3 separate regions of the Homo sapiens genome follow, and regions 2 and 3 are each linked to region 1. Evidence: fine-mapped QTL for protein levels in blood plasma. A gene starts in region 1. Each other region holds a variant in brackets. All regions are shown on one strand. Distances are between the middles of the regions.

Region 1 (2,761 bases):
TAATGTGTGGCCTCTGGAAGAATCACTGGATCAGATGTTCGGTTCTCAGCAGGTCCATGGGTTCCAAGCTGCCCATCTGCTTTCAGAACCTATGCTGAGTTCGAGATTTATGGAGGAGCCCACATCCCGAGCTGTGTTTTTGTTCCAGGCTCTTCTCTAGACCTCAAACCAGGAGCCAGCCACTACATTGGGTTCTATACAGAGATCCAGGTTCTCAGCTCAGCTCTAGGGCTTTAGACTCTGGAATTCACTAGGTACAGGGACAGGGGAGGGGGTCACTTACGGGCGGCCGCAGTGAGCAGCAGTGATGACCCACTGGCCTGAAAGCAGGGCGCCTCCGCAGAGGAAGCGGCGCCTGGGACCCGCCAGCAGGGCCGCCTGCCACGGCTGGGAGCTCCGGGTGCACGTATGGCCACCAATTATCTTGTTCTCATCCTCTTGGCTCTGTGTCATGGCTAGGAGTGGACAGGATTGGGTGGGGAAAGTAGATGAGCAAACACTCTCCACTCCACAAGTTTGTAGGATTCCAAAACTGACAAATCCCCTTCCTTTTGGTCTAACCCCTAAACTGCCCGCCTCTATCTGTCCCACCCAGGGTGAGACATGCCCAATATTGACCCCGTTATTGCCCCAGCACGGAGAGCTTTCTGACTCACCTCCCAAGTCACCTCCGTAGCATCTCTTATTTTGTGCCGTGGCCACCTTATCCAGGGCCTTGCTACATCTACGACCCTTAGCTCTATGCTCCCATAATTTCTGTGATCACTTCTCGAAATATGCCACATTTCCCCCCAATGAGTCCTTCCCCAACACATTCAAGGACCTCCCTGTCTCCTCCCCAACGTTCCCACTCAGTGGGACCCCAAGGATCCGCCATCTCTTGCCCCACACTTGCCCCCATCCACCTCACACACCCATGCCACGATCCCGCCACCCCATGCCACGATCCCGCCATCCCATCATCCTTCTCCACCTTCCCTCTGACAACAAAACATCTTTCTGACATTGTTTCTTTCCTAACACAGTCAGGTAGAGCCCCGTGATCTTTCTGCTATGACCCACTCAGGACCTAATAGTTCCCTAAGATTCCTTATGTATTTTGCACCAGACCTTATAAACACCTCTCTCCCCGGCCCCACAATTCCCTAGCACCTCCACAACTAGGAATTTAGGCCTCCAGCACGTTCCCCCACCATGACCCCCAAACCACTCCCTGCTCTTTCTTATGAGGTCACCATGAGCATCCAGGGGCCCCAAGGACCCATCCCCATCTCTTCTCAGAGTCTCCAGGGGACCCCCTTGTGTCATACCCAACCGTTCTCTTACCTATAGCCAGGACTTGAAGTGCTGTCAGCAGGAGGAACATTTTAGGGGCTGAGGGCCAGGTCCTGTCAAATGCAGAGAAAAAGTGAGAGAGAAGGAACCTTCAACAGAACCGGGGGCTGAGAGGCAGAGACAGCAAGGGGCACTTACCCAGAGCCCAAGACCCTCAGGGACATGAAGACACAGCAGAGAGGTAGGGACCAGAGACGAGGGGGGCGGGGCCTGCAGGCTCTGCGGGCGGCAGGTGGGAGGATGTGGAGCAGGGCACAGGTCCCTCCTTGATGTCTTGATGAAGGAAGGAGGGGAGGTGTCTCTCTTCCTAGTCACACTGGCAAAGCCTTTTATCCCTGGTAAGGACAGCTGGCCCTGCCCCCACCTCCCGCCGCCCTGCTTCTGACATTTTTTTTTTTTTATTGCCTAGTTCCCATTCCAGGACTCCCTGATCCCATCCCCTCCCTCCCCTGTCTGGCCAAAAAAGCAGCCACAATTGTTCATGAGAACCCGCCCAGGGAAGATGCTATAATCTAGAAGGAATCCTGGGAGGGGACCCCAGGGCAGGGTGGGCAGGGGAGGGTTCCCAGTTGCTGGAGGTGGTGGATCTAGTGGTGGAGTCAGGAAACCAGGGTGGGGAGTGTCAGAGGAAAGGGCACGAAGGGGCTGAGAGAGGGAGGAAGAGATGGACTGAGAGAGGGAGTCACGGGAGGAGGGAGAGAGGGAGAGAGAGAGAGAGAGAGAGAGAGACAGAGAGAGATGGAGAGAGAGAAAGACAGAGAGACACACAGACAGAGAGAGACAGAGACAGGGTGACGGGGGGGAGAGAGAGAGAGAGATGGAGAGAGAGACAGAGAGAGAGCCAGACAGAGAGACACAGAGAGAGAGAGAGAAAGAGAGAGACAGAGACAGAGTGACAGAGAGGGGGAGAGCAAGAGACAGAGAGAGACTGGGAAAATGAATGAGAAGATATGACAGTGGAGAGAGAGGAGTCCAGGAATACGAGCACAGAGGCAGGTGTGCTCATGAGAGAAGGAACTGAGGAGAGAGCTGGAGAAACCGGTGGAAGTTGGATGTGACAGGGAACAGAAGAGGCAGACGGTGGGAAAAAAACAAGACAGAGGAAGAGGGAGACACAGAGACGCAGGGAGAGAGGGGTGTGGAGAAGTGGAGATAGAAAAGCAAAAGACGGAGGGAAGAAGGTGGAGATAGAATGGAAACAGACACACAGAAAGAGAAAACAGTGGAGAGAGAGGAGAGAGGCCGAGACGCCCCCACCATGCGGCACTCACCACAAACACACACAGAACAACAGCGATGATGATGAAGGCAGTGCGGGCATGAGACGTGGAAGAGAACGGGACATGGTGGGAGAAAGAGGATGGGACAGGCAGGCCGATGGCAGAGGGGAGACGGGAAGGATGGGCACCTACAGGGGATGGGGACA
Region 2 (2,761 bases), 11 kb after region 1:
CCCCTCCCATTTATTTCTGTTTAAGCTCCACGGTGTACCCCAACCTTCCCCCTGTGTCTCCTCTAAGTTAGTATCCTCTCCCCAGGTGCTTGGGTCAAAGACGCTTGGGAGCGTCTCTGATTCCTCCCTCGCTCTCACCTCCCATTTTGGCAGTTCCTGTCACTTAGCTCCAAAGTACACAGTAAAGAATCCACCCACTTGTCTCCTCTCAGTCGCCCTCTTCCAAGTCACCCTTATCTCCCACCTACACAGGTGCAAGAGCATCCAAACTGGTCTCGCTGCTTCCAGCCTCGACCCCCAACCCCTCCCTCCCTCGCCCTGCTAAGTCCATTCTCTACTCAGCAGCCAACGTCTTCTTAAAACAATATCATGTTAAAACCTGCTTAAAACCCATCTGTGAGTGCCCACTGCAATTATAATAAAACGCAAATGCCTCCAAGGCACTTGGTGTCTGGCTTCTGTCCATCCTTCCAACCTCATCACTGCATTGTGTACTGTGCCTCTGCCCCCTGGAACTTCTTCCATCTTCTCAACATTGGGAGGCGCCTTCCCAACTTAGAGGCTTGGCCTTTGCTGTTCCCTCTGCCTGGGACATGCTTCCCACCACTCTGCCTGTGATCTTCCTTCAGATTTCAGCTTAAAGGTCATCTCCTGACCACCTTCTCCAGAGCTGGCATTCCCTTCCAGTTTCCATCTCAGCTTCTTGTGGGTTTCCTTCCTACACCTTATCTCAATCTGTAATTGCTCTATCGGTTTGCTTCCTTGTTTATTATTATTGCTGGTTTTCTTCCTCTCTATGGTGTTTATTACTGTCGGATGTCTCTCATGTTTTATTTATTTACTTTCTTACTCTTACGTCTACTCTGTCTCCCACGACTTGAATGGCAACCCTGACAGTGCAGGGATTTTCACTGTCTTTATCTGCCTCTATGCCCTGGCACATAGGAGGTGTTCAGTAAACCTTTGTGGAAGGAAGAGGCATCTCTTATTAGAACTGAGGCTTCACGAGGGCAGGGACCTTGTCTATCTTGTTGCTGAATCCCTGTTGCCACGTCTGCCACCCGGCACGTGGCAGGGGCTCTATAACAGGCTGAAGGAGGAAGATCATCTCAGAGCCTGTTTAGAATCTCTGCTTTTCTCCAGAATCTCTGCACTCAATGTCTCCACCTCCTCAGACCTGACAGCGATCTCCAATGACCCAGCCCCAGGAGAGCACACAGGTGGAAGATGGGGAAGCCGGTCTTTCTGAGACTGGGCTCCAAATCCCTGCAGTGGGGAGAATGCTTCTGACCTGATGGGATGAGACGCTGGCGTTT[C/T]GCCCCACTGCCACCTTTAGTTGTGTTTATGTAGAGGCTGTGTTTGCCAAGGCCACAGGCCACAGCAAAAGTCCCTTTGTCCCCATGAAGACTGGGGCCTCCTGTTTAGCTAAAGGAGCGTCTGTGTTCACTTGGGCCTCCAGCCTCAGCAGCTCCCTGCCCCTGCCCTCCATATTTACCAAGCCTTCCTCCTCCAGCAAAAGAATTTCCCGGGTTTACCATGGCCACCGGCATATGTGGCGAACATCTTTTTTGTTTGTTTTTGTTCAGTCTGCCTGGAAGAAATGTCTCTTGGATTTACACTGCCTTTGAGAACACGTAGGGCTCTTCGCCCTTAGGAAACACACCCTCAGCATTGAATAGGGTTCCCAGCTCTTGGTGAGGACTTCTTAAATGGCCCTCACATCCATTCTCACCATCCTGACACCCTCGCCACTGCCCCAGTTTTGGCTACCAAATCCATTCCCAGACCTTTGTCCCAGCCCTCTCCCTGGCCTCCTGGCTGAGTCTTCCCTACTCCAGTCCTTCCTGGACACGGCCCCAGAGGGATCTTTCTGACACCCAGAGCCGGCCCTGTCTGCTCTCGCCCTCCCTAAGTGCCCCATCCCGGCCAGAAGAATTCCAGTGCTTTATGGAGGGCTGGCCACCCCCTCCACCATCCTGCACAGGGAGGAGCGGCAAAGCCTCGCAGGGACTTGGGGCTCCCATGCCTGCAGGCCTCTGTGCCTGCCATTCTCTCTGCCTTGCACATTTGTCCCCATCTCGCCCTTTCCTGTGCTCATTCTTACTCATCTCCAGCTCCCGGTTTACACATTACCTCTTTCAGGAAGCGTTCCATGACGCACCGCACTGAGTTAGAAGCCCCACCTCAGGCCTCCCCTGTGTCCCTCCTAAGCCCCACGGTGGCACATATCCCTCCGGATCTTGACTTGCCAGTATCCCTGCCCGCCTCCGCTGGCAGACAGGGAGCCCATTGAGGGCAGGGACTGGGGCTGACTCAGCTGCATTGCCCCACCGCCCTGCGCAGGGCCCGCCAGCTCCAAGGAGGCGTCAGGAAATGTTTGCTGCATGAATAAAGGGGTGATCAGTATCCCTCCTTTACTCAAATATCCTCCATGGCTTCTGCAGTGCTTAGAAACAAAGCCAAGCCAAAGTCGCTTCTCCCTCTCACCTCTCTCCTCCACCTGCCCCCTCTCCTTTTTCCCTCAATCTCAGAGTCTGCACTTGCTGTTTCCTGCCAGGAACACTTTCCCAGAGACCCTCCACCCCTGTGCTCTCTGCCTCACCCTGCACCTTTCCCTGAATATCTCCTCCTTGAAGCCTCCCCGTCCCTCCTACTTAAATAGAAGCGATTATCACGATCCAACATACCATATATTTGACTTATTTTTCTCGTTTTTTTTTTTTTTTTTTTGTATCTCCCTTGAGGGCATGGTTTTGTTCTG
Region 3 (2,761 bases), 11 kb before region 1:
GATCTTCTCTTCTCTTGTCCCTCTAATGCTGGGCATGCTTCCATCTCAGGGCTTTTGTGCCTGAAACCCTCTTCCCCCAGATGTCTGCATGGTCCCCTGTATTCTTGCCATCTTCTTCATGAAGGCCCTCTTGACCACTGTTCTTGGGAGTCTCCAGGACAGTTTCAGTGATTCACTAGAAGGACTCATAAAACTCAGAAAAGTTGTTATAGTTTTGGTTTCTTACAGTGAAAGGACACAGATTAAAATGAGCAAAGAAAAAAGGTGCATCGGGCAGAGTCTGGGAGAGACCAGGCATGAGCCTCCACCTGTCTTCTCCCAGTGGAGTTTGTGGACAGTGCATAATTCCCCCAGCAATAATGTATGACAACACGCTGGAGCATCGCCAGCCAGGGAAGCTCACCCAAGCCTTGATGTCCAGGGTTTATATTGGGGGTTAGTCATATCGACATGACTGCCTGTTTGTGTGGCTGACCTTAGCTCCAGATCCTCTAGAGGTCAAATTGATACAACATGTCCCTAGGTCCCCACCATAAGTCACATTGTTATAGATTATCTGGCATGGCTCAAGCCCCAGAGAGACAAAGACACTGTTACTTAGCAAGATATTCCAAGAGCATAGAGGTTATCTCCCAGAAGCCAGGCAAGGGCCAAAAGTTTCACTGTAGTGTGCAGGGTTTGGACAGTCCAAGCCTGCTGGGTTGTACAACCACCCAACATAAAATTGCAACTCTCCTCTGACATTCTCTATCCTGTTACTCTGCTTTATTTTCTTCTATGGCATTTATTCCCATCTGTCAGGCGTAATGTTTTACTTATTCATTTGTTTCTGTCTGCCTCCCCTCTAGAATGTGAACTCCCTGAGGAAAGAATTGTTCAAATATTTTGCTCCTAGAACAATACCTGGTACACAATCAGATTTAATGAATATTTGCTGAATAAATAAATGAACTATGGGCATTAAATATTTACTGAATGAATAAATATGTGTTACAGGCTGAGAAAATGGGGGTTGTGACCAACTCAGTTTACCACTCGAGGCTATATGAGCAAACAGAAAACTGTTCTCATGAAAGCAGGATGTTGGAAAACTGACAACTGCATCTGCCACCAGAAAAGGTGCTGAGGGCAGTCACGCCTCAAGCACAGTGTTCCTTGTGATTATCCGAAAGAACATCTGAAGCCTGTTGTACAAAGAAAACAATTATATGTACCTGTGATTAATCAAGCAGCTGATCAACCGTTACCTCTCCCTCCCTGCTCTTTCTACCTAATATAAATGAAGGGCTGTAGAAGCTCAAGGCTGCCTTTGCTCACCAGAAGCAAGGAGCTCCCTGACACATTCTTTCAAAACAGATCTCTTGTCTTTATTTCTGCATTCGTCCCCCTTCATTCACTTCCGTAGGAACCGTCAGTGACAAATATGGATATTGTTGAAGGTGTGGAGAGGGAAGAAACCTA[A/ATTTTTTTTTTT]TTTTTTTTTTTTTTGAGATGGAGTCTCTCTCTGTCACCCAGGCTGGAGTGCAGTGGCACGATCTCGGCTCACTGCAACCTCAGCCTCCCGGGTTCAAGCAATTCTCCTGCCTCAGCCTCCTGAGTAGCTGGGACTACAGGCACCCACCACCACACCCGGCTAATTTTTTTGTATTTTTAGTAGAGACGGGGTTTCACCGTGTTAGCCAGGATGGTCTCGGTCTCCTGACCTCATGATCTGCCCGCCTTGGCCTCCCAAAGTGCTGGGATTACAGGCGTGAGCCACCGCACCTGGTCGAACCCTTCTTTGTTAGACAAAAACTTGCCAGTATTCGGTGAAATTGATTAAGAATAGGCCTTTAGGCCCCTTGGTCCCACTCCTGTGTGAATGGTCAAGAGGAGTCTTGTATAGATACATAAGTGGCACGCTCAAAGTGAAGGGAACCTAGGTGTCCATCACTGAAGGACTGGGTTACTAAACATGGTGGATGTGTACTATGCAGCGGCGCTTCTCAAATCCTAACATGCACTGAGTGCCCTGGCAATCTTGTTATATATAACGCAGATTCCGATTCAGTTGGTCTGGGTGAGATCTAAGACTCCAGTTCTAATAAGTGATTCAGAATTGCTATTTTCTGCACCACGCTATGTGAAGCAAGGGCAAAAACCAGAGTAGTGCTGTTCAATGGGACTTCCAGTGATGAGATGCAAATAATTCTATCTATAATATATCCGTGCTGTCAATATGGCAGCCGCTAGCCACGTACGGTTATTGAAATGTTGTGAGTATGACTAAGGAATGGAATTTTAAGGTGCATCTAATTTTAATTAATTTTAATCAAAAATTAAATGGCCACACCAGTTGTGGCTAACGGCTACCATATTGGACAACATATGTCTAGAAGACTCTGGGGCAGTTAGAAGCAGTGAACTAGATGAGCAAATAGTGATGCAGATAGATTGTTACAAGATGATTTGACGAAATCAGATGACGTATTTAATAATACAACCTGACCCCTCACCTACACCTACCTTCCTTCACACACTATTTAATTGAATGTAAAATACTGTTGATTATATTGCACTTTATTTTGTAGACCACTCAGAAAGAAAAAGAAGTTGCCAATTAAATTATGAGGTGTAAGACATCATGCTGAATTAAGATGTAAGATGCTTCCTAATTTCAGAGATGTGAAAAATATGAAAAGAATGTGTCTTTAAATCAATAAAATATAATGTTCAACCACCATAGCTGGAACTTTGAGTTGCAAATAAAATTAAAGTAGTCTTTAAACTATTT

The links. PIP is the chance, under the fine-mapping model, that this variant and not a neighbour inherited with it causes the effect. Sun 2018 read protein levels with aptamers (SomaScan).
Region 2: its variant is fine-mapped to the plasma level of the KLK14 protein (Sun 2018, PIP 0.95).
Region 3: its variant is fine-mapped to the plasma level of the KLK14 protein (Sun 2018, PIP 0.95).

Annotation. Positions count from the first base shown.
Region 1 is chr19:51,081,249-51,084,009 of GRCh38, forward strand. It overlaps KLK14 (kallikrein related peptidase 14), which reads right to left and starts at 1,639. Exons shown (of 6, transcript NM_001369775.2): 1 at 1,474-1,639; 2 at 1,327-1,388; 3 at 284-455. The coding sequence starts at 1,366.
Region 2 is chr19:51,091,901-51,094,661 of GRCh38, forward strand. No RefSeq gene overlaps it. Among named protein-coding and RNA genes, the nearest start is that of KLK14, 10 kb to the left of the region's middle. The variant C/T (reference allele first, on the strand shown) is at 1,317.
Region 3 is chr19:51,070,136-51,072,896 of GRCh38, forward strand. No RefSeq gene overlaps it. Among named protein-coding and RNA genes, the nearest start is that of KLK13, 6.4 kb to the left of the region's middle. The variant A/ATTTTTTTTTTT (reference allele first, on the strand shown) is at 1,462.